Linked DNA regions of Homo sapiens. The protein of the gene in region 2 interacts with the protein of the main gene of each other region in a biochemical or structural test. Each region holds a gene or a part of one and is shown on either strand. Other genes may lie near its edges. The genes, in order: REL and MTPN.

The links.
Region 1: the proteins of MTPN (region 2) and REL form a complex in vitro, tested with the Homo sapiens proteins (one study listed by BioGRID).

What each region holds. Positions count from the first base shown.
Region 1 is NC_000002.12:60,874,583-60,886,822, forward strand, and holds the start of REL (proto-oncogene c-Rel), read left to right. Parts: upstream 1-6,991; 5' UTR 6,992-7,258; coding exon 7,259-7,268; intron 7,269-12,240. UniProt on the Homo sapiens protein: Proto-oncogene that may play a role in differentiation and lymphopoiesis.
Region 2 is NC_000007.14:135,923,285-135,934,514, forward strand, and holds the end of MTPN (myotrophin), read right to left. Parts: intron 6,729-11,230; coding exon 6,642-6,728; 3' UTR 3,476-6,641; downstream 1-3,475. UniProt on the Homo sapiens protein: Promotes dimerization of NF-kappa-B subunits and regulates NF-kappa-B transcription factor activity. Plays a role in the regulation of the growth of actin filaments.

The DNA.
Region 1 (12,240 bases), on a different chromosome or scaffold from region 2:
AAGTGCAGCAAAATGTTAATGGTGGAATCTAGTTAGTGGGTATACATATGTTCCCGGAAAAAAAATCTTTCAGTTTGGCTGTATATTTGAATTTTTTTTTTTTTTTTTTTTGAGACGGGTCTTTCTCTGTTGCCCAGGCTGGAATGCAGTGCCAGGATCATGGCTCACTATAGCCTTGACCTTCTGGGCTTAGCTGGAACCACAGGTATGTGTCACCACACCTGGCTAATTAAAAAAAAAAAAATCTTTTGTAGAGATGGTGTCTCATTTTGTTGTCCAGGCTGGTCTTGAACTCCTGGATCAAGCGATCCTCCCACCTTGGCATCCCAAAGTGCTAGGATTACAGGCATGAGCCACCATGCCTGGCCCCAAACATTTTTATGATAAAACAGGAAAAAAACCTGCCAACATTTCTGAGGGCTTTCCCTGTGTCAGGCACTTTGTATTAGTGATCTCAATTAGCCCTCACAAGAAGCCTGTGAGGTAGGTACCATATTACTACCCCTATTTTACAGATAAGCAAACAGGCACAGAGAGGCTAAGGGACTTGCCCAGAGTCTCACAGCTAACAATCTAGGACAAGCTAAGATTCAAATCCAGGCCTGTGTGTTTGCAAAGCCAGGGCCTTTAGCTGTGAAACACAGAGAATTCCGCAGATGTTTTTCAGAGCCTCCATTAAATATTACTGAGTATTATAAAACTTCTAGAACATAGGAAAATATTTTCATAACCTCAGTCCAAGAAGAGTTCTCTAACATTCACAAAAAACACTATCAAAGAAAATAAATCAGACTTAATTAACACTAAGTTAAAAAGCTTCACTAAGATAATGAAAAGGCAAGCCACAGACTAGGAGAGGATACTTGCAATGCATATATTTTATAACAATTCTGTGGCATCCATAGAGGTGCTCTGCTCAGATCTCCATTCTAGAGAGGATCTGCCTCAGCTTTCAAGCCAAAGCCACATATTTCCTTGGAGCCACCTACCCAATTATTAAGTACAGAGGTAGTATAAGGGCTAACTATCTCTGTGCACAGTGTTTGTGTTAGAGCTCCCCATTGGATTTACTGAGACTTCCTCAAAGATGCACTCCCATCTCATTTTCTTTCTACCAAATTTACCTTCCTTCCCCCTTTCTTTTCACCAGTGTCAGACCTGCATCTTAAGATTTTCCCTGCCTATAACTTTTTTCTTTCCCCTTTATCTTTCATAGATGTTACCCCCAATAAATCTCTTGCACTGTTAATTTCATATTGGTACTTGCTTCCCAAAGGACCCAACTGGTATACTCATATCCAGAATACATAAAGAATGTCTACAAATCAATAAGAAAAAGATAGATAATCCAATTTTTTTTTTTTTTTGAGATGTTTTCTCGCTCTGTCCCCCGGCTGGAGTGTAGTGGTGTGATCTTGGCTCACTGCAATCTCTGCCTCCCAGGTTCAAGCGATTCTCCTGCCTCAGCCTTCTGAGCAGCTGGGATTACATGTGCGTGCCATCATGCCCAGCTAATTTTTGTATTTTTAGTAGAGACGGGGTTTCACCATGTTGGTCAGACTGGTCTCGAACTACTGACCTCGTGATCTGCCCACCTCGCCCTCCCAAAGTGCTGGGATTACAAGCGTGAGCCACCGCGTCTGGCCCCATTTTCTTTTCTAATGTGCAAAAGACTCAAACAGGTACTCTGCAAAGGAGGAGAGCCAAATGACTAGTACATTTGTAAAAAGGTGTTCAGTATCTTGGCCAGGCACAGTGGCTCACGCCTGTAATCCCAGCACTTTGTTAGGCAGAGCGGGGTGGATCACGAGGTCAGGAGTTGGAGACCAGCCTAGCCAATATGGTGAAACTCCGTCTCTTCTAAAAAAAAAAAAAAAATACAACCGGGCGCAGTGGCTCACGCCTGTAAGCCCAGCACTTTGGGAGGCCAAGGCAGGCGGATCACCTGAGGTCGGGAGTTTGAGACTAGTCTGACCAACACGGAGAAACCCCGTCTCTATTAACAATACAAAAATAAAATAAAATAAGACAAAACAAAAATACACAAATTAGCCGTGCACAGTGGGCTTGCCTGTAGTCCTAGTTACTTGGGAGGCTGAGGCAGAAGAATCGCTTGAACCTGAGAGGTGAAGGTTCCAGTGAGCCGAGATTGCGCCACTGTACTCCAGCCTGGGCGATAAAGCAAGACTCCGTCTCAAAAAAAAAAAAAAAAGAAAGAAAGGAAAGGAGTTCAGCATCTCTAGTTATCAGGGAAATGTATATAAAAACCACAAGAAGGTACTGCTACACCTCCATCAGACTGGCTAAAATTAAAAGGACAATACCAAGTGTTGGTGAAACAAATGGAATTATCTTAAGTTTTGTTGTTGTTGTTGTTGTTGTTTTTTAGAAGGAGTTTCACTCTTGTTGCCCAGGCTGGAGTGGAGTGCAGTGGTGCAATCTCAGCTCACTGGAACCTCCGCCTCCCGGGTTCAAGCGATTCTCCTGCCTCACCCTCCCAAGTAGCTGGGATTACAGGCATGCGCCACCATGCCGGGCTAATTTTGTATCTTTAGTAGAGACAGGATTTCTCCATGTTGGTCAGGCTGGTCTCGAACTCCCGACCTCCGGTGATCCACCTGCCTCGGCCTCCCAAAGTGCTGGGATTACAGGCGTGAGCCACCGTGTCCGTCCGGCCTCTTAAGTTTTTTTGTGGGAGTATAATTTGGTACAACAACCCTGGAAAACTGGCAGTGTCTACTAAAACTAACATGTATTTACCATATGATCCAGCAGTACTACTCTTGGGTGTATATCAACAGAAATAAGTGCTTATAACCACCAAAAGATGGACAACTATGTGGACACAACTCAAATATTTATCAACAGTAGACTGGATAAATAAAATGTGCTATATTCATACAATGGATTTCTCCCCAATAATGAAAAAGAATGTACTACTGTCACACAGTACGGACATGACACATACAATTGTTAAGTGAGAAAGTCATACTTAAAAGAGTATACACTGTATGAATCCATTCATATCAAGTTCAAAAACAGATACAACTAATTATTGTCAAGGAGGTCAGAATATCGGGTGCCTTTTGGGGGTGGATATTGACTAGAAGCAGCTCCGAGGCAGCCTTCTGAGTGGCTGGCTAGAAGCGTTCTGTATCTTAATCCGGGTAGTGGGTTACAAAGACTCTCCTTGATGACACTCTGAAGAGGCTTCTCTGAGCCCTGTTCTCCACTAGGCTTCAGCCTTGGCCTGTAACTACTGCAGATACTGAGCACACATTATTTTATCCATGCCCCACACTAACAGACCTAAACAAATACTAGCATGCCCCTAGGATGATGACTTCGGTCACCTTTAGTTACTGCCTGGGAAAGCTCAAGAATGCCAAAATAATATATGTTTGTTCCAGTTCTATGAACCTATGGTGACCACAACGTTTGATTTTATTCTGAAACTGTTGTTAACTGTATCCATTCAATTTAATGATGGGTGTCTTGTTCTTTCAACAACAAAAAAATATCTTATGGAGCAATTTCACTTTTGACCCCTCACTCTTACTTTTTCATATTCTGCGATCACAGACTCAGAACACATCCATTTGCTAATCAGATTTGTTTCTTTCCTGGAGGATTGTGACTTTTTAACTGCTGCATCATTAAAAAATTTTTTTTCATATGTTTAAGGTAAGTTCTTTAGCATCAACAGTTCTAAAGGTTCTAAAGGTTCTCTGCCCTTTCAGATCAGTGCCCACTGTTTTATAACATATATTTGTAACATCCCCTTTAGTAGGTTGAAGTGAAATTCATAATCTACCTTACATGAATATTTTCAAATAAATAAAAATTATGTTCTAACAGCAATATCAAGAATTAAAAAGAAAGCAATTTCTAGGAAAATAATATCGACTACAGTATGTAAATGCTTGGGCATAACTACATCAAAAGACATAATGGGGCCAGATGCAGTGGCTCATGCCTATAATCCCGGCACTTTGGGAGGCTGAGGCGGGAAGATCATTTGAGCCCAGGAGTTCGAGACCAGCCTGGGCAACATAGCAAGACCCCGTCTCTTAAAAAAAAAAGACATAATGGGTTGGGTGTGGTAGCACGGGCATGTAGTCCCAGCTGTTTGGGAGGATGAGGTAGGAGGATAGCTTGAGCCCAGGAGGTGGAGGCTGCAGTGAGCTGTGTTCATGCCAGTGCATTCCAGCCTTGGTGACAGAGCAAGACCCTGTCTCCAAAAAAAAAAAAAAGACATAATGAAGTTGCCAGATGTTTGTACTTGTACCTAGAATCAGTGTGAATGCAAGTGCTGCAAATGCAGCCTGATACTACTGTGGTTTTTTGTTTGTTTGTTTTCTGAGACACAGTCTTGCTCTGTCATCCAGGCTAGAATGCAATGGTGTGATCTCGGCTCACTGCAACCTCCACCTCCCCAGTTCTAGCGATTCTCGTGCCTCAGCCTCTCAAGTAGCTGGGATTACAGGAGCACACCACTACGCCCAGCTAATTTTTGTATTTTTAGTAGCGACAGGGTTTCACCATGTTGCCCAGGCTGGTGTTGAACTCCTGACCTCAGGTAATCCACCCGCCTCGGCCTCCCAAAGTTCTGGGATTACAGGTGTGAGCCACCACAGCTGGCATACTGTGTTGTATTGATGAGCTGTCAGAGTTACAATTTTCCAACTTTTAAAACATTTTTTAATAAAAGTCTGCCCTCAATTTATACAATATTTGCATTCCTGGGAAATTCAGTATATATTAAAAACCATACAAAAATATTTTATATCTATATATGAAAGGGAGTTGTGTTCTAACCATATATTATTAAAATAGGCATTTCAACTACATGAAAGTGAATGTTTGATGAGACGTTTGAAGGTCATGAGGATGAGGGACAATTCTTGACTGTGCTCTTTCCTATCTCAAGGACCTGCTGCCTGCTGTTCCCCCAGCTGGAATGTTCTTTCCCTGAATCTCCCTGTGAATGGCCTTTTTTTTTTTTTTTTTTTTTTTCTGAGACGGAGTCTCGCTCTGTCGCCCAGGCTGGAGTGCAAGTGGCATGATCTCGGCTCACCGCAACCTCCGCCTCCCAGGTTCAAGCAATTCTCTACCTCAGCCTCCTGAGTAGCTGGGGTTACAGGCGCCCGCCACCACGCCTGGCTAATTTTTGTATTTTTAGTAGAGACGGGGTTTCACCATCTTGGCCAGACTGGTCTTGAACTCCCAACCTCGTGATCCACTTGCCTCAGCCTCCCAAAGTGCTGGGATTACAGGCATGAGCCACTGCGCCTGGCCGGCTCTTTCTTAAACTGAGGACTCAGCTCAAATGTCACCTCCTCAGAACTTTCCTCTCCCCCAGTCACTTTTCATTTTGAAATTCCTTCAGAGAACTGAAAATGTTTTCCGTCTCTTTGAAATGTATGTACATATTTTAAAAAGCTAAATAAGCCTCTTGCTAGTTTTGCGTCCTCAGAAGGTCTTTCTTGCGGGCCTCGGAGCCATCTCTTGGAAATGTGAACATCAAGGATGGTGCTCCATGTTTCTGTCTCTAGGAGGGTTTAAGCCTTGGCTCTTGGTTCCAAGATAACTTCCCATTATTTTCCTTTGGATAAAGACAATTAATAGGTATGTAATGGATTGTACGTGCCTGACCATATGAAAAGGTGAGATTTCCTTTTTTTTGGTCTTTGCACTCTCTTCAGTGGATTGCCTGTGATGTGCATCATGGTACGTTTTAGTACATATCCAATAATAAAACTGTTTCATTCTTTTGTTGTACATTGCGCATTTCGTGGAAAGAACAGTTTGGGGTTGGCAGGATATTTTAAATTATTTGCCCATATGGGTCCCCCAGTTTTGGGCACTTGTATGGCAGGCTGATATTCCCCATTACCTCTCCGTACTAATTTTAACTAGTAAGGGACAGGGGCAAGGGCATGGAGCTTTGGAGTCAGACAACCCTGGCTTTAAACTGTGCCTTTTATCAGCATTCTGAAGTACTGTATGTTGAAGTAACTTCTCTGAACCCCGAATACTTCATCTATAAAGTTAGGAATAATAAATACGTCATAGATTAAGTATGGACATTATCTGATGCATAGCAGGTACTATTCAAATGAAGGAAACGAAGTTATCCTAGGTCCTTTAATGCACTAAATGTGTGCTCCATTTCCGCCTTTCTTGGCATCTGTGTGAAATCTCAGGATATAGTGTCCACTAAACTTCAGTGCACTGCCTAATGAGACAACGAACTCCAAGTGCGGACCTTTTGAGTTTAAACGGGTTTCAGTAGGTAAAATACGTAAAGTTCACAGTACCCTCGCAATTTAGATGGAGGAAAAAAAATCAGTCGGGGGGGGGGTCCCCGTATGCAAATACAGGAATTACAGAAGAAGACAGGACCCCCGCCGCAGCACCACTTCCCCCTACAGGGCGCAACGTCCCGCCGCTGGCGCGGGGGTGGAGATTTGCATGTGCGAAGTCGGGAAGAGGGGGAACCACCTCTCGAAAACCCCGGCCGTCGCCCTCCCAGGCCGGGAGAGTCGGCCCCGCGCGCCCCCAAAAGCTCCCCAGCGGCCGGCCCTCTCTACGTCATCCGCACCCTCCCGCCCGCTCCTGAACTTTAAACCACACTCGGAAGAACAACCTGGAGGAGGGGGATTTCTCAGGAGCCAGCGGCCTTCTCACGCTGCTAGCCGTCACCTCCCGGCTCCCGCCGTTCCCTGCGCTCCCGAAGCCCACCCCAAGCTCCCGCTCCCTCGACCCCCTCCCAAGCCAGCCGCCGCAGCAGCGCCGGGGGCGTATGCGTGGGGGCCGGCGGGGAGCGTGCGCGGGGACAGGCAGGGGCGGGGCGCTGGGGGCGGTCGCGCGCGCGGCGGCCGCGAGGTCGCCCCGCCCACGCCTCCGGGTGAGGGTTGCTGCGTCGGGCCTACGTCAGCCGCGGGAAATTCCCCTCCCGCCAGGCTGCTCGCCTCTCGGCTGGGCCAGCACTCGGCTCTCCCCGCTCCGCCCCCTGCCCCTGGCTCCCGTACGGTGGACGGCGACGCTGGGTGACCCGGGGTGCAAGAATTCAGGGGTTGGGAAGGTGTGAGCCGCAAACCCAGCGGAGGGCGGGAAGAAGGAGGAGGCCTCTAGGGTGGTCGGGGGACTGGGGGCCCCGCCGGCAGAGGTCCCTCGGCCTCCTGACTGACTGACTGCGGCCGCCTCCGGCCAGGACGCTGGGAGCTGCCTGCGGGAAGGTGCGGGGAGCGGAGCCATGGCCTCCGGTGAGTGTTCATGGGGCGCGGGCCTGGGCCGGGGGAAAGGAGCTCTTCTGAAGGGGGTCCTGCCGCAGTGAGTTTAGGGAGCTCAGTTTTTGCTGGGGCGCGTTCTGTCTTTAAAATCTCATATGGTAAAATTGTCAGCTTTTAAAAAAGTTACCTGCTTCAGGGTTTGCGTGCAGAATCCAAGCCACGCTCTGTAATTCGATCCTGTTGTCATAGCAGGAACCTTAGAAATTCCCAACGACTTGATTTTAGGATTAGGGAAGTCATAAGCGAACCAAAGGAGGACGAAGAGTTCTCATTAAAAATGTATATGTATTGAAGATGGTGGTTTTATGTTTTAGAACAGGAATGAGGAACCTTCAGACCTCGGGCAAGCTCTCTCCCCCTTTTTAGTTTAATTTCATCAAATGCAAAGAGGTGATCCCCCTTGTACTGACAGTTGTACAAAATGTGTCACGGCTTTAAAAATCATCCGTGGTATTTTAACACGAATTAGAAAATCCGTGGTATTTTAAGTGTTAATGTTGCTTCGACCAAGTGTAGGCCGGGCGCGGTGGCTCATGCCTGTATTCCCAGCACTTTGGGAGGCCGAGGCGGGTGGATAACCAGAGGTCAGGAGTTTGAGACCAGCCTGGCAAACATGGTGAAACCCCGTCTCTACTAAAAATACAAAAATCAGCGGGGCGTGGTGGCGCGCGCCTGTAATCCCAGCTACTCGGGAAGCTGAGGCAGGAGAATCGCTTGAACCTGGGAGGTGGAGGTTGCAGTGAGCCGAGATCGCGCCCCTGCACTCCAGCCTGGGCGACAGAGGGAGACCCTGTCTCTATTTAAAAAAAAAAAAAATGTAGTTTTTACTGTGAGATAAAGCTCAAGGTTCCTAATCTGACGAATAGAGACGTTGAATCCCCCTTCCTCCTCGCTGGAAATAAGGGGAAAGAGGAGTTTTAGAATATCCGAGCTTTAAAATAATGAGTAGGAATGAATACAACTTTATCACTTATGTGACTATATATTTTCCCTTAATAAATGCTCGATCTCTCCCTTTGGGGGGGAATAAGTTTGTAAGAAACATTGCAGAGCAAGAAAGTCTCCTATATACACAGATGTGGTTGGGGCTGCCTGGAGCTTAAGGTTGAGGGGGACGGGAGAGCCGGGGCGGGGGGATAAATCAAGTAGCCTGGGGTCGAGTTGGTCTTTTACCAGGATTTTGGCAAGGTGAGTGGGGGACACTTTCCAGACAGAGGAAGCAGCGTGAGCAAAGGCAGGGAGGGCTAAATGCATGTTAAATGCTGTACTAAGAGAATGAAGAGGGGGCCCCGTTTATGAACTTGACTCTTATCCCCAAACTGCCTGGTCCAGTGACCCTCAGAAGTAGGCTGATGTCTAGTAGAGATGAGGAAGTAGGAAGCTTAAAGAACCTTTTTAAAAGGTTGAGCAGAACAATGCCATAGCTATTGCTGTAGGCAGAAAAGGAAATTGGGGTGTTTCACATGACATTTGATTTCAGTTTGTTTGTGGTTGTGAGAATACTAAGTGTAGTTTAAAATATTTCAACTTTCCCTTTTCCCACTTAAGTGACACCAGACTTTCAGATAATCGTGTAAATTTATGAATTCAAAGCATGTGTAGATTAGAAGTGCTAAGATGACTTCAAATATTTTGTTAATGTATTGGTTATCAGAAAGATTTTGTTTGGAAGTAATGGAGAATGCCTAGCATTATAAGTAAGTTCAGGCTCTTGGCGATTTAATCAAACTTTATTGATATATTGCATGAATTTAATACTTCTAATTTTTTCAGTTGAGAGAGGAAACAACCATTTCTATATAGAGTATTGTAAGACCCACAGGATTTTAAAATTTGATACAATTTAAATTTGTTCATTGACACTGTATTTTGTGCTGTTGTGAGGAGGAAGGATTCCCTAAAAGTAAGGAGGAAATGTTTAAAGAAATGGAAAGTTTTAAAGGTTTAGAAGTTGAAGGGTGATTAACTTTTTTTTTTTTTTTTTTGGTCTTTTCTAAGAGTTGCATTAAAATGGGACTATTTAAAATGTAACAAGTTATTTAAATTGTAATTCAGTTGTTAGAAAACTGCCAGGCCTGGAATAAAAAAAAAAAAATGTTTACAGGAATCTGTGTACTTTTCCTTAATCTGTTATAAAGACCTTAGAGAAAGAAAAAGATTCACTAATAAAATTCTAAATTCCTATTCTGTTTTGAAACAGTAATTTAACCGGAAGAGTGACCAAAAAAAAAAAAAAAAAGAAATTGCTTAGTTTTTCATTGTCTAGTTTAGATTCTGTTTGTAGTAAGGTAGTATTAAAACCTCAGAAAGTAACTTTTATTCATTACGAAGTATTTAAGAGCATTTCTTCATTTCTTACCAGATGTCATATGTAAATAGGTATATGTAGTTGAATATGTGATAGCTATAATGTAAAAGTAACATAAATCATAATCTTATAAGCAAAATTATGTAAGTTAGAATGTAGTTTAAAATCATGTATATAATATGATTCTAAATTTTGTTTAGATAAGTTAGCAGATTAATTAGGATTTCACAGCTTGTATTAAGCTGCCTTTCGTTGCTTTTTAAAAAAATTACACCTTGATCACAGTCTTTTGACATAATTAATAATAGATATAGTGAAGAAAAATGTTCCCAAACCCATCTAAGGTATGCATAGTAGGCAGTTGTTGCTTTTGTATATTTATTCTATTTAATATAAGTAAAATTAGATATTTTATGTCTGAATTTAAACCTTCTCATTGTTCCAGTAAAAAGAGCAAAATGTCTTTGTGTGGCATATAGCTCTGTTAACTAATAATTAGTGCTGTCTTTGGTAAAATGTTTTAAAATTTAGATAATTTATTTTTCTTCACATTTTTCTTAGTATGGTTCTTCTGTGTCACACAATAGGAAGGAAGTACAGAAATGAATTGTTTTTGTAAACCTCACTTCTTACCAACTATTTGTAGTGTGAATTTCAAGAGAATTGTTGTTTTTCTCGATTAAAGGGGAGAAATGGAAGTAAGTGTGAGGCAACTTAATCTTTAATAACAGAGCTGGAAGTTAGGAATGGATAGCTACAGTAAATGACTTCTTTTTTTAAGTAAAATGCCACACATGAGCATGAATGTTTCAGAAATGCAACACATGAAAAAATAGAAATAACAATGGAGTTAAATAATTAAGGTGACGTATGATAGGCACAGATAAAGGGAATGAGTTAATGTAATGACTAGGGAGGAGCCAGACAATGAATCATAATTAGGAACATCTAGGTTATGCATAGTATCTTTCTCAAATACAATTTAAGGGACTCAGAATTTCATTTTGTTCCAACTTTCTCTCATATGGGTTCTCTGAAAATGATTTTGTTTGTAGGCACATGACCCAAATATTGCATGGGATAAAATTGTTTTTCTGAAATTCATATTTATCTGGGCCTCCTCTGTTTTTATTTTTAAAACAGAGGTGATTTGGTCTTGCCATTTGTTTTTAACTTTAATACCTGTATAATCTAGGACAGCTTTTAAAATTTATTTATTTTACCCTGGCACGTGCAAGAGTTTTTTCAAGACTTACCTTTTTTCCCCCTTGGTAACAGAATCCCTATTGCCAGAATCTTTTACAGTTTTTACCTTGTAGTGCATAAATCAGTTGAATACTCATCTGAAAATTTCCTTTCTTTGATTCTTAAGGCCCAGTTGAAAGTCAGCCTGATGTATTGGAGTAATAAAGTCAGCCTGATATATTGGCATAGCCTTTGGCTGATGAGAGACCTAGTTTGAGGAAAAAAATAATAGATCTTATTTTCTTTTTCTCCAAATTGAGTAGAGGTGATATTTGGAAAAATATATATTGTTAGCTCCATTGGCTCCTTTAGGTCTCAGGCAAAGTCTGTCACCGAGGACCTTTATGAGAGACATGCAGTCTAGTCAGCTATTCTCAACTGTGGTGTTGACACACTGGTGTGACAATCATTTGTGTGATGTGTTGCAAGAGTTAAAATATTTGTGTTGTAAATTATTTACTTTTTAAATAAATGAAAGCATTTGAAGGTTATCTCTATATTGTCATTTTTTCTTGCTTGCATTTGAATAAGGTTCTTTTTTAAGTGGGAGATAAACACAAGTTCAAGTTACAAGTAGCCAGAATTGCTTTGCCTAATTTACTCACGTCCCAGTCCATATTTGTACCTGAATTTTTAGATTACTTCTCTCAATATGTGCATTGTTGCTTCCACTTCATGTTTTAAGACAATTATTCTTAATCAGGAGTGTGTTAGAATTTCTTGGAAGGCTTTTTCAGCAACGTGTATCTGGGCTTTAAAAACTATGAAGATTTCTTTATCTTCTAAACATCTCAAGTGGGGTAAGGACATGTATGTTTTGAAAAAACTACCTAGGTGATTCTGATGTACATCCCCAGTATGAACTCTGTTCTAGGGATTTCTTTGGATCTAAATACTCATTTGGCTATACCAGGATGCATTATCTTCTTAAATTAAGTTGCATTTATTTTAGATTGCAGATTATGTGCTGTATCAGTTATTACCTCCAGTTGCTTTTATGCTTGTTTTTTAAATTTGGCACTGCCATATTAGCATACCATTCATAATTCATTTTTATTATAACTTCATATAATTTTCAACTTTAGTTTTATCATGTGTAAGATGGGATAATAATTTCTATTATTTTTCAAATGGAGATTAAAGTTAAGAGGATCAAATGAGAAATGTATATAAAGGGGTCTTAAAATAATGTTATAATTACAATAATTAGCTTTTTTTTCTGTATACTTGATGCTGGTTGCTAATTCTAGCAATAAAGTGTTTGTTAATAATGTGTCTATTTCCGATAATTTATGATCCATTTAAACATTTCAATGTAATTTTTTTATTTTAAAAGCTCATGCTTTATTAGATAGGCACTATGTTTTAAAATAGCACTCTTTCTTGCCTAAG
Region 2 (11,230 bases):
ATAGGTATACAAGACACTTCCAGATTTGTAAGTAAAACCTTAGAAAAATGGGCGTGGTGGCTCACGCCTGTAATCCCAGCACTTTTGGAGGCCGAGGCGGGCGGATCACCTGAGGTCAGGAGTTCGAGACCAGCCTGGCCAACATGGCAAAACCCCGTCTCTACTAAAAATACAAAAATTAGCCAGGTGTGATGGTGGGTGCCTGTAATCCCAGCTACTCAGGAGGCTGAGGCAGGGAGAATCGCATGAACCCGGGAGGCGGAGGTTGCAGTGAGCCAAGATTGCACCACTGCACTCCAGCCTGGGTAACAAAGCAAGACTCTGTCTCAAAAAAAAAAAAAAAAAAAAAAGAAGAAAAATATAGCTTATTTAAAAAAAGTCTATCTAGTAGTATTCTCAAAACCAACATCTGGTGGCTAGGAATTGTCTATGTATTATTTTCCTTTGTGTGACAAGATGCTGTTGCTACGAGTGTTGCCAGACACGTGATCCACTGTTCTATCAAAACAGTGGAAATAAGACCATCCTTGCTGCTTCAGCTGCTGAATCATAGAAGTTGCTGGAGTGGCCAGACAATGCTTTGTTTTGCTTTGTCATGTATAGCTGTGCCTGAGTATGTGTCATGATGTCTCACAGTGACCTGCATTTGACCCACGCTCAGCATTTCCTCAGTGAATTGTTGTGACTCTGTGATATTTGTCTTCACATCATTGATTTCAGTTTGCAATCAATATCAGTAGTACTTATGAGGCTCCATGGTCAATATTTGGGTACATGGACACAGGTAGCCTCATGGCTCTTCTAATAGTCTTTTCTAGGGCAGGATTTACTGAATCAAAGCTGTTTTCACATTTTACTGTATAATGGTTTTACGTCATCATTCAGAACAAACACAGTGAAATGTCTATTGAGGGCCAGGTGCTATTAAAGCTGTTGTTAAATTCTCTCTTCTCAATCAGCAATCATATTTTAAGGAAGTAAAAGCCTTGGAGAAAAATATCCCATGGCTGATGTGTGATGATCTGGCTGGTATCTGGGTAAGATCGTTGACCTGACACAGGACCTAGTTAGTTGGATAGGATGAGTGGCCACCCATAAAGAAAAACGGAGGGCAAAAGCCACTCCACTGTGCAGAGAAATTGGGACACTCCACTCCAGGGAACCTGGCCACCCCAAGGCTGCTGTTTCCAAGCCAGCAGCACACCCACTGCAGTGGGGAATCCATCTTCACAGCACACTGTGACAGCAAACGGGGCATTGGGCTGAGAAAGCAGCCTTTGACTTCCTCCCAGAGTGGCTCTGCCTGCCAGTCCTGCACCCCACAATGACCTGCATATAAAAAGCATGAGACTGCAGTTCATGTCATAGGTCCCAAGAATTCTTTACATGTCTCTCCCAGCCCTCCACTTTTTTTTTTTTCTGAGACAGTTTCATTCTGTTGCCCAGGCTGGAGTGCAGTGGTGCGATCTCGGCTCACTGCAACCTCTGCCTCCTGGGTTCAAGCGATTCTTGTGCCTCACCCTCCCAAGGAGCTGCGTGCGCCATCACACCCAACTAATTTTTGTATTATTGGTAGAGATGGGGTTTTCCCATGTTGGCCAGGCTGGTCTCAAACTCCTGACCTGAAGTGATCTGCCCACCTTGGCCTCCCATAGTGCTGGGATTACAGGCGTGAGCCACTGTGCCTGGCTTCCACCTTCCACTTTACTTTGGAATTCAAGGAAAGGTAAGGTAAGGGTAAGGCTTGAGTCTCAGGAATCCAGCTTTGGGGACATAAGGCGGAAAAACCTCCTAAGAATAACTAAGGGTCATTTTCACCAGTATTACACCTTTGGAACCATTGTTACATTTCACCCTGACTTCTTTTGGCCAGAATATACCTTTGAAACTCATTTTTAAAGATTTTCCTGGACATCTGGAGCTTCAAAACTTGGCCAGTTTTGCTACATTTCACATGTTAAAGGCTTCCATTTACTTTCTCTTTAGGAAGTCATGCCTGATGGCATCTATTTATAGGCTATTTGACTGTTTCTTGCTCTTATGGTCTTATTCAATGGTCCTCAAACTTCAGCACGCATCAGAATCACCTAGAGGGCTTGTTACAACATAGACTGTTGGGTCCAGCCCGAGTTTGATTCAGTAGGTCTTGGCTAGCGTCCAAAAGCTTGCATTTTTATCAAGCTTCCAGGTTATGGCAATGCTGTTGGTGTAGAGACCACATTTTGAGAATCACTGATGCTACAGAAAGAGAAAAAAAAAAATCTTATGGTGGTCTGGTATACTGTGCTGCATGAAAAGTCCTATGACAGCTATTCTCTAATGGCAAACTAATTTCCCTCTAAGCTCCTTCTTTCCACCAGGTGTGTGCCTTCCATCCACATATGCTGGTCTGTTCTTCAATCATTATATAAGGGGACTCTATTCCCTTTAAAATGTATTTAACCAGATTTAAACTTTCTTTACAGACCCCAATTCTTTTTTTCAGAGTGGGTCTCGCTTTGTCGCCTAGACTGGAGTGCAGTGGCACAAACACAGCTCACTCACTGTAGCCTCAAACCTCTCAGTCTCAAGCAATCCTCCCACCTCAGCCTCCCAAGTAGCTGGGTCTACAGGCACTTGCCACCATACCCAGCTAATTGTTTTTTAATTTTTTGTAGAGACTCAGTCTCCCTCTGTTGCCCAGGTTGGTCTCGAACTCCTGGGCTCAAGTGATCTTCCTTGCCTCAGCCTCCCAAAGTGCTGGGATTACAGGCGTGAGCCACTGCGCCGGTCCTAGATTCCAATTCTTAAAATGAGAACTTAAAAAAATTTCTGTAATCACTTCCACCTAAAGCCGTACATGGTCCCCATTTATACTTCAGTCAACAATGTGAAAGTTCTAAAATACAGCTTTTGCTGTAACTTAGTATCTGCACATATATATTTTTTTTCTATCACTAAAAGTAAACTGCAATAGTCTTCTGGTGCTAACAAGATTACAACACAATCAAACTGATTTTGTATTTAATTTTGTTCAGTTTTAAGGTTCAAAGTGATCACTCATCCTGAAAATTACACTCTAAAAAAGTGCTCGTAGTTGAGTTTGGGAAATGCAGATCTCCAAGAAATGTGGAGCAACTTAGATGAGCAATGAAAGGATCAGAGGTTTAACCACGACTCCATTTTCTTCAAGCCCCCTGAAGATCCTGACGATCTGGGATGTGCTGGCTACACCCTGCTCCCCGTCAACCAGGAGCGTTACTGAAGTTACAGTAAAACAATGTCAGGAGACTGACACAAAAGCAAATCCTTTCAAAGACTGGTAAGGTTTATTTCAATTAAATCTTTATGTTTTATTTTCCCTCCACTCATTTTTTTCTAGAAGTGGGATAAGATTAACTAAATGTTTGAGTCAATCAAGCTTCTGGTATAGTTGTAGAGATGACTACAAAAGGAAGGTGATAATAACTGAGAAAAATGCTGCTGACACATTAGCTGTAGCACAATTCAAGTTTATTCCATTTGTTCTTGCAACACAAAACTTAAAACACAGTATTATTTAGCATTCGGATGTACATGAACTAGGATACTTATGAGAAACCCAACTGCGTCAAAAGTATGACATTGTGGAAAAAATGAACTCAAATATATCAAAATGCACAAAGCACTAGTCTTCCTCCATTACCGCTTAGAAAGATATGATTGTTTCTCCATTTACAAAATAGAATCAGGACAATTTAAATTTTTTATATTTTGCATGCAAAACACTGCAATTGCTTATTTATGTAGGAGGGCACTCTCACCAGCTTCTTCTATACACAATTGAGTATACAATATTGCATGGAAGAAAACAGCAGCTCAACTGAAATATTAGAAAAAAAAATCAAACAGATACATACAGATTTAAAATCCAGTACTTGGGAAAAGATATCAATGAATAAAAGGCCTACTTGTTTGCAGCTTCCACACACTGCACCTACCTACTACCTCTCTTCCATGCTTAACTGGGTTTAGAAAGGTGAGCTATGCGTAGAAGAACTACTTGGGATATTCAAGTGCTGTATTTGAACGATAAGCCTATAGATAACAGTCTGAAGCTGCAAGGGAGACTTTGTTAGTACACTACTATAAACAGGTAAACTACCTGTTTGTACTTGATATAGTGCATATGAAATGACTGATTTAATACAAAACTACAGAACATGCAAAATTTTTTCTGAGATGTTAAGTATTACTTCAGTGGAGAACAAAACTTACTTAACCTTTCGCTAATGCATGTAGTACCAGAAAGCAAACATGGTTTTAGCTTCCTTTACTCAAAATATGAACATTAAGTGTTGTGAATTTGTCTGCCAAGTGGTTCAGAAATACATTATAAATAACCTAGTTAAAAAAAGAAACTGTGAACCATCTTGGTCAGTCTATTCTATTCTATGTTTATATGTTATTTTCTCAAGCAATCGCTTCATAATTATAGGGTTTACAAAAAGGTCGAGAAAGAAAAGCGAAGGCGAAATAGCCTCTACTGCATTACAAGCAACATCAGGATAAACTGTACAAAGAATCACATGGTTTCCATACCATGAATGTAGAAAGCAGACCAGGTTTAGGAATGATAGGACAATGCACTCTCTGCAATAGCCAACTACAACAAAACACTTTGAAAGTAAAGGTGAAAATTATATAAAGGGAAAAATTCAAGCCTTTAAATAGCATTATGTCAAGAGGTGAAAACAAAGGTATCAAAACACCCTGTTGCACTACGTTGATAGTTATAGACTGATAGAGTGCCCTCCATTTTCAATGAGGATGTCTCCATATTTTAGTTCAGTGATGTAATAAAGTACTGATTACTGATTTTTAACCCAACTCTTAATAGGCTGCATTAAGACAGCAAAATTAGCCAAATACAACAAAGTATTTAAACCACTACTTTGTGATTGTTTTCTTGGATGTAGGAAAATTACAGGGTTAGGCTAGTTGTAAGTGAAAAAGCCACAGGATTAAAAAAAGGACTCATGGGGAAAAATACACACACACACCCACACACACCTATACACCCACACACCCACATGCCAACCAACCAACCAACCAGCAACTGATCAGTAAAACTTGTTATTAACCAGGGTGACTGTTCTTGATAATAGATTAACCCTGCTGTAGAATGCTATGTTGCCTTTAAAAACCAATTCAATTATTATCCACAATCTGAGTATCAGTCCCTAACCCACCCTCCCCTAAAAATTTGAGGTACATTCAATTATTGCATGACTTGGTCTTAATATTTTTAGCAAGCTTATATGGATGGCAAGTCAAAGGAATCTTAATATTTTAAATGTAAGATATAAAATTTAAGCTTATATATTTTAATTAGCTGTACTGCTCATGAAATAAATATTTGGAAATATGTGTAAATATTTTCTGCAGGTCATAAGAACACCATTTTAGGGCACTGTATTCCAAGAACAGAGAATACATTTTGAAGTTGTCACACTTTATGTAATGCATGATTTATAAAAGCAACAAAAATATATTATGCAGGTGGGTTGGCATATGTTCAGCAGAAGCCTATCAACAACTCTGGGAAACCTGGTTACAAGTGTATTTTTGAAGGGATGGGGCTAAATTTGTCCAAACAGTAAATCTCACCCCAGTGATAGCTTTGGTGCAGTAAGTAATCAGCCTCCAAGATGGGTCTGAGAGAGGCATTTCAAAGAATGTTCCTTAATTCTCAACACATAACCAAGGTCAATCCATTCAAACAGCAAATAAAGAAAATCCATAGGTACTAAGATAACTGTTCTCTCTTCATATGATACTAACAGGCTTATGGCTATGATTCTATTTTTAAATCCCCTTTTACTACCAGCAGGAGTTTGAAAGTGTTTCAATGCTATATAAATGTATGAATCTAGAGGAGAAAAAAATATGCATACTGGAATGGTTTCTCCTTTAGACTTCCAAAACTTAAGATTTTATAAATAAAACTAGTCAGTTTTATCTAAAGAGACATGAAATCCATGTGAAAGGGGAGAGAAAATCCAAAGTTCAGTCATCCAGCAATTTAGGAGTGTGCCCCTCCTCACCTTAACTAAGCTTTCACATAAAGCTTAAAGTCACCGAGGAAAGATTTGGTCACCAACCTTATAGGCAGCGCTCTTAACTATGCCAGGAAATCCCCAGTAGAGTGCATTCTTAAGGCAGAAGGCTAGAGCTAATTGCTTATCTCAGCACCCTAAGTTTACATCACAGCAGCCACTACTGCTCAGACAGTTAGGGCTACCAAATATGTAGAGTTGGCCTTTGTAGAATCAGACCTTCAACACAATCTAATAAATTAGCTAGGGAGCTGAAAAGGTCAAATGTTACTGGTGTATTTTGTCTTTGCTCTCCCTTGGGTATAAGGTGTATATTTTATTAGAAAGGGAAGAGGCTTACTTGATCAGGAATCCCAGTAAAAGCCTGATCATGGTTCCTTTTGCCCCTCCTCCAAAACAATTTTTTTTTTCTGGTAGTCGGATTTGTTATGAATTTCTCTCTCCCCTCACCCCTCTTAAAGTATTTAGCTGAAGAAGCTGGCAGATAGAGAGTGACAGACAGACAGGCAGCAGTGTGAGGCCACAGGAGAGTCATTCTTCCGGAGTTATCAGTCCATCCATCCATCACTGGAGAAGAGCTTTGATTGCCTGGTTGTCAGTGGCTTCAAAGGCGGTCAGTCCATCTGGGCCTTTCACAGTCTTATCAGCACCCTGGAAAAGAGAGGAAAGGGCTCATTAAATGAGCCCACAACTGGGGGAAGGGAATGTAAGACTAGCTCACATGGCACAGGTTAATGTTTACATCAAGAATTAAAAATTCCTTTACTAGTGGAGTCTATTCTACTGCAGAAAAACAAACAAGTTGGCAACATTATGGATTAATTATAAAAATGCCACATTATTTTTCAGGCACTAAGAATTGTAACCCAGGCAATCACTGGCTTTTATTTATACTATCATGGATGAGATGATTAGGAAGAGCACGTTGAGCAAGTTAGATATATTTATCTAATTAGGCTTTAAAAATAATATCCCTATGTGCAGTATGAAACGGGGAAAAAGTAAATCACTTTGCTAAAGTATTCCTGTGACAAATTATTTTTTTCTTATTTGAAACACTTTTTGTAGAGTGCATTCAGTATTATATACATCAAGAACAAATACTGTATTCGTCATTTTACTTGTAAAAACTTCGCAGTAAATGCCTGAGATGCGGACTATAAGAAGGTTCCCTGCGATATTGTAGGGAAATATTCAGTGCAGACACCAGACTGCTCTGAACGCTTAACTTGGAGAGTGCTGCCTTGGAACATTTTATCTGCAACGCGGCATTCTGGTTTTGAGAGTGTGTATGTGCCCTTTTGTGCCTGTATGTTGTTTCATCTGTCTACCCTTTCTGGATGAAAGCTCCATGGGAGCAGTAATTCACCACTGTACTCCAGCACTTGGAAAAGTGCCTAGGTGCATGGTAGGTTAATCTGCTCCCAAACCAGGTCTGATTCTTAACTCCCAGAGACAACATCCTACCATCTGAGGGTTCTGTTTACCAGCTCTAGCTCCAGCCAGTATTTATTCACCACACATTCTCTAGAGTCCTGACCCACTCCCCTTGCCAAATCTCACACATTCTTCTGCTTGTTCCTGACACCTACAGAATTGTTTAAACTTGGCACATATGGTCCTTTAGAGGCTAACGCTGGTCAGCTTTACCAGTCTCTTCTCCAGTTAACCGCTCCATGCTCTAATCCTACAGAATTTCTCACCAGTTCCTGCTGTGTTTCATGCCTTTATCCATGCGGGCTCTAGATGGGATGCCTTATCCTCTTCTCTGGCAAATCCACCCATTCACTCAACAAATATTTACTGAATGTTTAATATGCGCATACTGTGTAAAGGACTGGAGAATCAAAGAAAAATAAGACAAGAGTCTGCCAGTCTGGCTGGTATGAGAGTCAGACAACTCAGCCAACACAACACTATGGGAAGAGAACAGTAACAGGGATGAGTGGCCCATAATCAGAACAGGATGTGGCAGGAGGGCGTTTTAAGGGAGAAAGTCTTCCGGGATGAGGTAAAATGCCTGAGCTGAGTCTTGACAAGGAAGTACAGGCTGATTAGGTAAACCAGGGAGGAGATGACATTTTAGGAAGTGTTAAATGATCACAAAGTCCTCCTCAGTATTATTATAAAAGTCTCTATTTCCTCATTTTCTAAATGAATTTAACTGCTTCATGGAAGACATGGAATTCAGGGTCAAGTGGGAGAGACGTCAGTGCGTGAGAACTTCAGTGCTGTGAGTCCCGCCACAATGGTTAAGGGATAACTGTATTCAAAAAAGTTATTTCTTATTCATTTTGATGGCTACTTTTATGACTAGCATTATCAACTATAATTCTGCATTAACAGTTACATATTATAGTGAACTTCTGTTGCTTTTTAGCTCTCAGAGTTTATTTCCCTCCATTTGATGGCAGCACCCTAATTTCATCTTGGGGAATCATTTGTCCCCTCTTGCTTTTTAAAATTTTAATTCTTAATTATTATGGGTACATAACAGTTATATATATAGATGGGGTATGTGATGTTTTGATACAGGCATACAATATGTAATGATCAAATCAGGGCCCTTATCATTTCTTTGTGTTAGAACATTCTAATTCTGCTCTTTTACTTATTTTAAATTACACAGTAAATTGTTAACAAATGTGAACAGTAAGTTGTTCACAACAGTTAACAATTTACTGTAGCCCTGTTGTGCTACCAAATACTAGATCATATTCATTGTAACTGTATTTCTGTTCCCCTTAACCATTCCCAGGGTCCTCTATAGTCCTGGGATTATAAAACCGAGATGCTTATTTTCCTCACCAAATTTCAAAGATTTGAAAGCGGAATACTCTCTCCTAGATTTTGAATCCTGATTGAAGAGATCAAAAGAGAATATAAGAAGTTAGAACTCATTTCTGGGGCACCACCTCGATGAAAAAGCTGACAAGTTCCTGCTACCCAGAGCCCTGCAGTTGCCACAGCTCAATCTCTTCTCAACCTGGTGCCCAGCTTTTCCTGTTGATTCTGCAACTAGGCCAGTCATCTTTTCAAAAATTCCTTTTCTGCTTGTTGACTATCTCTGCTATTTGCAACCAGAAGTATTTAGATAAAATATTTTTAAAATGTATATGTCACCTTTTTCCTAATTATGATGCAAACTTATCGCAGAAAACTCGTAATTCTATACATTAGATACAACTAATGTTAACATCTTAGTGTTTCCTTCTACTCTTCTATTCTAAATATATATACATATATACTTCTTTAAAAATAGTTGAGTAATTAGAAGTAGAGTGACTATATTTATATCAGACAAAAGAAGCCTTAAGATAAAAAAAATTACTAGAGACAAAGAGGGACATTTCATAATGATAAAAGGTTCACAATTCAAACATGTAATTTAAAAATTTCATTTGTAATACCATCAAAAGGGATACAATACTGAAGAATAAATTTAGGGCCAGGCGCAGTGGCTCACAGCTGTAATCCCAGCACTCTGGGAGGCCTAGGCAGGTGGATCACCTGAGGCCAGGAGTTAGAGACCAGCCCGGCCAACATGGCAAAACCCCATCTCTACTAAAAACATAAAAATTAGCCTCATGTGATGGCACACGCCTGTAATCCTAGCTACTTCGGAGGCTAAGGCATGAGAATCACTTGAACCCAGGAGGCGGAGGTTGCAGTGAGCTGAGATGAGATCGTGATGCTGCACTCCAGCTTGGGCAACTGAGCAAGACTCACTCAGCCTCAAAAAAAAAAAAAAAAAAAAAAAAGATGAACCAGTTTTGAAGTAACTGAAGAATTTAAGTATATTTGGCCCTATCCCTTCCTTGAAGAAACCATTTTTTAATTGTTTTTAATTATTTGCATAGCTTTAAATAATATACTCATGCTGATATTTGAGCTATAACTTTAGATTTTATCTTTCGACTTCCTGCTACATACATAGGCCTTTAGCTCACCACTACCACCCTTCCCCAGACCTTCTCAATTTCTTATACTTAAAATATTTTGTTCTTTATAAATGTAAACGATATTTATTTAAACCTGTATTTCTTGTTCCATCAATTCTCATGAAGTAATTTTATAAGATACTTTCTCAACCTTCCCATCACTCCCTCCACCTCCTAATTTGCCAGCTTTTCTATTTTGTCAAGATTAACTTTTATATTCTGGTCTGTAAAAACTGTGTTTTTATCAATTCTTATAGTTAAGTAAGTGATGTTCAAATTATTTCTAGGTAAATACTGCTCTTGGTGGCACCTAGCAGACTAATATGACTAGTCATTTTCTCTCTGTTGTTCCAATATTGCAACCCTATGCAATCCTCACAAATGACTGAATCAGAAGGTAACACTTACAGTAACAGCCTGAGTTTTCCCCAGTCCCACAAACTAATGAATTAAAATGGTTTGGCTCTGTGTCCCCACCCAAATCTCAAGTCAAACTATAATTCCCAATGTTGGAGGTGGGGCCTGGTGGGAGGTGACTGGATCACGGGTGCTAATGGTTTGGCACCACCCCTCACCCCCTTGTGCTGTCTTGTGATAGAGTAGAGTTCTCATGAGACCTGGTTGCTTAAAAGTGTGTAGCACCTCCCCCTTCACACTCTCTCCTGCCACCATGAGAAGATATGACTGCTTCCCCTTTGCCTCCTGCCAGGATTGTTAAGTTTCCTGAGGCCTCCCCAGCCATGCCTCTTGTACAGCGTGAGGAACTGTGAGTGAATTAAACCTCTTCTCTTCATAAATCACTCAGTCTCAGGTAGTTCTCTATAGCAGTGTAAGAACAGACTAATTCATGAACCAATCTGTTACTCTTAAGGTAAATTGCTACCACAGAGAGAAACTAAAACACAATGAATTGAACTAAGTTAATTTATTTCTTGCTTATAAAACAGTCTTAGTGCCAAGCACATAGGTTGGCAGGGTGGCTCTGTCCTTAAGGTCATCTAAGGACCTAAGTTCCTTCCATTCTGTTGATCTCCCATGGGTACACTCCTCACCCATATGTCTGGAGCTGGCTCGTCCTACAGCTGCTTCTAGCCTTCTAGATAAGGAGAAAAGTCCACAGCAAGTGGCTTCATATTTTGTAATGATTTGGAAGTGACACACATCATTTGTGCATATCCCAGTAGCCTAAAAGTTAGTTAGACACACAGCCAT